2 linked regions of the Homo sapiens genome follow. The protein of the gene in region 2 purifies or fractionates together with the protein of the main gene of each other region. This does not show direct contact. Each region holds a gene or a part of one and is shown on either strand. Other genes may lie near its edges. The genes, in order: PARVA and PLS1.

The links.
Region 1: the proteins of PLS1 (region 2) and PARVA fractionate together in Homo sapiens (co-fractionation; one large-scale study listed by BioGRID). This does not show direct contact.

Annotation. Positions count from the first base shown.
Region 1 is NC_000011.10:12,516,827-12,520,643, reverse strand, and holds part of PARVA (alpha-parvin), read right to left. Parts: intron 3,035-3,817; coding exon 2,933-3,034; intron 2,200-2,932; coding exon 2,127-2,199; intron 1-2,126. UniProt on the Homo sapiens protein: Plays a role in sarcomere organization and in smooth muscle cell contraction. Required for normal development of the embryonic cardiovascular system, and for normal septation of the heart outflow tract.
Region 2 is NC_000003.12:142,602,586-142,606,402, reverse strand, and holds part of PLS1 (plastin-1), read right to left. Parts: intron 1-3,817. UniProt on the Homo sapiens protein: Actin-bundling protein. In the inner ear, it is required for stereocilia formation. Mediates liquid packing of actin filaments that is necessary for stereocilia to grow to their proper dimensions.

The sequences.
Region 1 (3,817 bases), on a different chromosome or scaffold from region 2:
AGGAACTTGATGCTAACCCTTGGCTTACACTAACTCAGGCACTAAACGGTCATGAAGCCTGGGCAGCAAGTCATCTCAGATACAAACCCAGTTTCTAGGGGATTTCAAGGCACAACAGAGCTTTGAGTGTTAAACAGCACAGCAGAGAATGCATTTTCCTGACCTTAAAAACATGTTGCCATGAAAAATGCCTCCACCACAACCAGTTTGATTTTGAAATGCCCTCAAAGAATTACCCACATTGGCACCCTTTGAAATGTCTGCATCATTTACTTCCAAATCTCACTTTCCAGGTAGAAGCATAAAAACCAGACGGAATGCTGGGATTCACTTCTTTCAAAGTACAATTTCATAAAATGCTATTTCCATTCCCCTTTACGTACTGGAAATTTGCAGCATGGGCATAATGCCCTGTGTCATAACAAATAAAACACGTGTTTTTCCATCCACATCAGTCTGTTAGTTTCACATTCAGCAACTTAATAATTGCATAAAAATATCACCTATATTCCAAAATATTCCCATAGATTGATTTATATTGGGAAAATTATCTGTCCCAAGGGAAAGAAATATCCCAATTCTAAAATAGCAGAAGTACTTCCAATCTGTAACCAGGAAGTTTCATATTAAGTGGTTGAAGAAAGTGGAAGCAAAATGATGGTCGGAACTTTCTCACTGTGTCTGTCCTCCCAGAAGCAGGGTGCTCATCATCTGCCCACAGAACAAGAAGAGTCCATTCCTAATGGCATTAGGAAGGCTGGAGTGGCCTTGCCAAAGAGAGAGCCCCAGGGGGACACCAGCCTTGCTAGAGGTCCTCCCCCAGGTCTCAGTTGACCAGGGGCTTAGGACAAGGTGGTAATAAATGAGAACAGGAGTTGACCTTTGTTGGCTAGAGTCAATAGATAACGAGTCTGGAAGGAGTCATGAGACAGGGTCCCCATTCTTCCCCGGGGGGACTTTTGCTCATGCTGTCATTCTGTCTGGCATGCACACACTTCTCTCCCAGTCTCCATACACCAAAGCCCTACCTGGTCCTTATGGTTGAGCCCCACTGTCTCCATCAAACTGTTCCTCCCCCAAGACAGAAGTGGTATCACCTCCTCAGTCCTCACAGACTCTTCCTTGTACCTCTTTCGTAACAGTTCCCATGACTGTCATTTCATTTTGCTAACTGGCTCCAACTTTTCTCTTCCCTGGTTGGCTACACGTGCCTTGAGGTTCAGGAAGGTCTTACCCCTCTTGTTATATCATGGTCTACAGGGTCTCAAGCCCACTAGACCAGGGCATGGCCCCCACTAGGTGGGGGTTTGGATAGAGGAGCTCAGAGCAGAGGCAGGAAGGGGGCATGAGAGCCCACCATTCCTACTCATCCACTTGCCTATAAACTACCAGAAAAGTGCGAGCAAAAGGGCCACAGATGGCATTCTCAGTGTTCCCAGGGGACATATGCAGGAGATTATCTGCAACACAGTGGTGACCTGCCAGCTCTGGTGAAATGGAATACTTCAGTCAGTAAGGGGCAGAAAGCAATCATCCGTACCAAGACTACTAAGAGAAGCGTGCCTCCTCTGCTCACGAATGCACGTGTGCACTCCTAGCAGGAGTATGCAGGGGCTGCAGAAGCACTTGTCCCTTCTGCATTTCCCCTCAGACTTATATTTACAACCCAAACCCCACAAATCATGGCCTGTCCTCAGACAGAGTCTGAGCAGGCAGAGCTCCGCATCTGTAAGGAGAGAAGCAGTTTTGCTCAGCCCAGAACTGTCTGCGCTGCACCTTCACCCCGACTGGCGGGGACACAGCTCTTTGGCAGGTCAGCACCCTGTGCAGGGACAGGAAAACCTGGAAATTGGGCACAGGGCAGTTCCTGCAGCAGCAGTTCTGCTCGGTCCCTGATCCCCGCGATCCCACGCATGGCATGTGTGGGATTTCAGATTCTTTTCTTCCCCTGGCTGTGCAGCTGGCAGCTCACAAAGGGTCTCTGGGACTGAGCAGCTGCACCGAGTCCCACCTTCCCCAGCAACGAAGGCTTCAGAAAATGCTTCCCTCTGCTACAAAATCTGAGTACTCATGTGCAGGGAGAGGGTCTCACTCTGTTGTCACAAACCCAGGAAAGAGCAAAGTACCTTCTGGCCGCGGTTTTGGCTTTTCCAACCCTCCATCTTGCATGAGCTCAAAGGCAAAGGAGACATTCAAGACCTGGCAAGAGAGATGCAGACAGCATGTACCATTGCACACCCAGGAGCCCCAGGACCTGGCCCTGGGAAGTGAAGGAGCCCAGCACTGTAGCCAGAGGGACAGAGGCTGAACTAATTTCAAGGAGAAATATGGCTACCAAAATGGGCAGGCCACCTGGAGCGTGAGCTAGCTGATCCTAGCTTGCTGTTGGGAGAAGCACTCCTGGAGAAGCACAAAACTCCCTTCATATCCTACTGTGTTCCTGTGTAAACTGCCAGGACTTCAAATTGGGGGTGTCAGTGCACACGTCTGGAAGAATCAGATGGCAGGACATGTTCAACAGGCAGAGCAGGCTTTCTGGTCAAATGCCTTTGTGTAGCGAGCAGGATGTGGCAGCCTACGAGAGGCCATCAGAACCAGGCTAAGCATGAGCCTCAGGGCTGACCAGCTTCACAGTCACTTTCCTTGTCATCTCTGGGGAGAGAGGAGGCTGGGCTGGGGCACTTGACAGGGACACAGGGCAGGGGACCCGGGCCAGGCTTCAGGGCAAGGGAAAGGCAGTCAGGGATGCCCAGTGGTCTGCAGGTAGCTCCTTCCCAGCTCAGCTCTTATAATGGGTCCCACCTCCAGGCACTGAAGACGTTGAGCAGAGGGGAAGCTTCTGCCTTTTTTCTGGATAGCCCCAGCATGGGTGTGGGCACATGAGTCAGGGGATGTGGGCTAGGGGGCCTCCCTTGATGTCCCTTCTCCTTACCTTCTGTTCAAAGCTGTCCGGGGTCAGGAAGAAGCTGTGCAGGGGCACAAAGTAGCCCTCCAGGAGCCCCATGAGCAGCACCAGGTACACCCCATCTGCAAACTGGAGGAAGAGCCAGGTGATGGCACTGGCCCCTGAGCCTCCCAGCCAATCCCCATCCAGGGGGCCCATCAACTTCTGTGCTATGCCACCTGAAGCCTACCACCCCAGCCAGGCTGCTAGCTCGGGGGTAGGGGCAGTGGCCCGAGACAAGGAGGTCTGCTCTGCCCCACGTCTGGCTGGCACAGGAGCCACAAGCCCAGGCCCTGATCTCAGCTGACCCAGCATTTACTGAACAGAGGCTGTGTACCAACTCCTGGTCTAGGCATGGGGACCAGAGCATGGTGGGGGGTGGGGGGTGGGGGGTGGTCAGTGTGGCTCCTGCCCTGGAGGAGTACACAGTCTAATAGGGAAACTGGTGTGGGGGCAAGGCACAGCTGCTCTGATGGAAGGAAGCTCGCTGGCCTGAGTGAGGTTGAGAAAGGTCGCCCACAAGCACTGAAGGCATCAGAGGAGTCTTCTGGAGGGGACAGAGCCTGAGTGGAGAGCTGAGGATGAGCAGGATTGGCTAGAGTGGGACAGAGGGAGGAGGGGGAGGTGATGTCCAAGGTGAATGGCATGAGGTTCCTGGGGAGATCTGTGCTTTCTGAACAGAGAAAGGACTAGTGTCACACAGGGCTGGGCATTCTTTCTCCCATCTCTCTTCAGTATTACAGCAGCAGAGTGCAGCTGTTATGAATGTGGGCTCTGGGGCCAGGCCTCCCAGGTGCAAATTCCAGCTCTCTCACCTACTAGCTATATGCCTTGGGCAAGTTATGTCACTTCTCTGTACTCATATGTCTTATC
Region 2 (3,817 bases):
TTCAAAGTGAAGATTTTGACAACGTGTGGTTGATATGAAACCTTTAATTTCTCTGAGAAGTCCCGCTGCTTGCTTTAGTAATACCCTTAATGCCTCAGGACATAACATACTCAAAAAAAAACTGTGCATAAAGAAGTTCTAAATGAATCTTGGTATCCTTTCTAGATTAAATGAGCAACATGCACATCACAAGGTCTTCCTTAAGTGTGCCTGAGATGTGAAATAGCATGCAGACTATTCCCACTGATATTTAATAATACATTAACATGCAAAAATGGGTATCATTGTGTACCCTTTTGTACAATGTTTCAGGATTCAGTTATTTCCTCTGAATTACTAGAAAATTACAATGTTTTGGGTTCTCCCATTATTTATTGTCCTAGTGGTATGAGAAATGCTTATAGTAACCTTGCAGAAATACTTCAATTAAGGCTTAGTCTCCCACAGAACAATATATATCACATAGGGAGAATATAACTTTGTAAAATATTTAGAAAGTTTAATCTTTTATCCTACACATTCCAGATGTACATTAGCAGGAAGTATAAGTTTTAAAACAAAACTACTTTGTTCAAGATGAAAGAGATGGATATTTTCCCATGTTAATCAACTCTTATTTCAAGAACTCATTTTAATGTTAATATGCTCCATAGTTGAGGGTTAGCCATAAAATACATTTAGACTTTTATAAAAATTGCACATAAATTTCATAGAGGAATTATTTCATATGGTCAGTAACAGAAGAAAATATGAATTGACTGCAAGAGCACTAGATTTGGAGCTAGACTGAAGTCCCATGAGGTCAGGAGTTCGAGATCAGCCTGGACAACATGGAGAAACCATGTCTCTACTAGAAATACAAAAATTAGCTGGGCATGGTGGCACATGCCTGTAACCCCAGCTACTGGGGAGGATGAAGCAGGAGAATCACTTGAACCCGGGAGGCGAAAGGTTGCAGTGAGCCAAGATTGTGCCCCTCACTCCAGCCTGAGCAACGGAGCAAGACTCTGTCTCAAAAAAATTAACCCTGACATTTTTTCAAATGTTGAAATTATAAGACACAGTTATGAGTTTAATTTCTGGCAGTTTCAAATCAGGCAACCTCCAGCAGGCAAGTCATTCTCTAAGTCTTGGCCACTTATCAGTGAAAGGAAGTAAAATCAGAAAGCTTTTTTAAACATCAATAAATGCCTTTCCTCTATCTTGTAGTTGACTAGTTACTTTCACATCCACTATCTTGTTTAATTATCAAACCTACAGCTGAAGAGAAGGCCTTCCTTCTCATGGGGTCAGAAACAGAATCACAGACTTTGACTTCTCATCCATGGTTCTGATCATAGGCCAACTGGTTTCAGGTATCTAAACTTTAAATTGCCCTAAGACTCATTTTAATTGACCACTAAACATTCAGAGATTTTCAGATTTCCTTTTTCCACTGATAATAATCTTGAATTTTTTTTTTTTTTTGAGACGGAGTCTTGCTCTGCTGCCCAGGCTGGAGATGCAGTGCCGTGATCTCAGCTCACTGCAAGCTCTGCCTCCCGGGTTCACGCCATTCTCCTGCCTCAGTCTCCTGAGTAGCTGGGACTACAGGCACCCACCACCACGCCTGGCTAATTATTTGTATTTTTTAGTAGAGACGGGGTTTCACCATGTTAGCCAGGATGGTCTCAATATCCTGACCTCGTGATCCGCCTGCCTCGGCCTCCCAAAGTGCTGGGATTACAGGCGTGAGCCACTGCACCTGGCCAATAATCTTGAATTTAATTTGGCTATTTGAGGATAAGAAAGGGATCAAGCAAATTGCTATTATTGTTGTTTTTCCAAAATCAACTCACTTCCATGACAACTTCTGATGAAAAACATTGGGTTTTGGTGAGCTGTGTTTCACAGATGGCACCTCACTGACCTGATTAACACTTAAAATTCCAATAACTAGGTCACTCTTAGAAACATTTCCTTGACCAAAAGGATGTCCCAATGATCTTAAACCTGGGGAGAGGGGAAGGAAAAGGGAGACCGCCAGGAAAGAATTCAGAGTGCTCTCCAGGAAGAGACAGCAGGAGTCTTTGAGAGGTTTTGGTTTATTTACAAAGATTATAAATACTAACTTGATATCAACCTAGAGATTCTACTTGTCTAAACCTTTCCCCCTCTTTTATTCATTCCAAGCAGCCCTTGGTCCAAGGTGTAATTAACAAGACCGATCCTTCCACACACATTTACCAGTGTCTTAAATTCAAATCCAAATTCTATTTTGGCAGTACTGCTAAAATCTCTTATTTCTTAGTTCTCAAAAAAATTGAAGGAGCTTTTGTCATTTTTTTAATATAAACATCTTCTTTCTTGAAACTGGATCTATAAACAATTTAATGTATTGTGTTCCTCAATAATAGAGTAAATCTGATTTCTGCTAATATTTTGGGTCAGTGACACCCCAAAACCTTTTGCTTTTTATCATGAAGAAGCCCCTCAGACACCTTCTACCTTACTAATGTCTCCATCCAATTTACTATCAAGAAAAGACAGTTTCTCCTTTTTTTTTGTGGTCAGCTTGGATCTTTTGAAGGAGGCATGTCTGTGTGCAGTGAGTTATCACCCAGATGTTCTTGTAGGTATTTTTTTTTTTTTTTGAGGCAGGGTTTCACTTTGTCACCCAGGCTAAAGTGCAGTGGCACAATCTCAGGTCACTGCAGCCTCAATCTCCTGGGCTCAAAATGATCCTCCCACCTCAGCCTAAGTAACTGGGACTACAGGCACGCGCCACCATGCCCAGATAATTTTTTTGTAGAGACGATGTTTTGCCATGTTGCCCAGGCTGGTGTTGAACTCTTGAGCTCAAGCGATCCACCTGCCTCAGCCTCCCAAAGTGCTGGGATTATAGGCGTGAGCCACCATGCCCAGCCAGTCTCGTAGTTTTATAGCTGTGAATTGCTCACAAAAGTCAATCATAAAATTTAGTTTATCGTAAAGTCTGAAGTCCCTTCACCACTGGACTTTATGAACAAAGCTATGTCTAACTCTGCTAGGAAATATTTTCTGATGAAACAAGTGTTTTAAGTAAGAAAAAACTCTCCCAATCATCTAACTCCTCACCCTTTCTGTGCCCACAATATTACTATAATAAAAAGCAACGTGCCTTTACAGAAGCCATGCTACATATGTCTCACCAAAAACGGCACATAGGCACTTTCAGACACAGTGCTAAAAAGAAATCAGATGATCAAAGTTGAACAGCCTCACATCTCATGTGACCTTACATGTCAGCAAAGTTTCCAGCAATCAAAATTGTATAACCATTTTATAACCAATAAACCCGTATGCAGCACAAATGTCTCTTTCTCCCCGACGTTCATCATCAGCCAGAGTAAAATGTTAATTCGGAACTGGATGAAGTGACAAGCTTTTGAATGTTGAGAGAATGAGGGCCAGAGGTGGCCTCAGCCTCAACACTTTGGGAGGCTGAGGCGGGCGAGTCACTTGAGGTCAGGAGTTGGCGACCAGCCTGGCCAACATGGTGAAACCCCGACTCTACTAAAAATACAAAAATTAGCCCGGTGAAGCCAGAAGCTGCGGCCCTGCCTTTCATATCCTGGGAACACAGAACCACTCAGGGGAAGGTAAAGCAGAACCAGGAAATGGAAAGAGAGCTCAGGCAGCAAGGGAGGGAAGCACGCTCTCAGCTGAGTTCCATTTTGAGACTCCCAGGAGAGTAAGTTCTCTATGTAATTAGGTTCATCAAGAGGAGGGAGAGGAGCACATTTTCTCACAGGTCAAAGCTGGGGCCTATGGGGTGGGGGGGGCCTTTAAATTATTT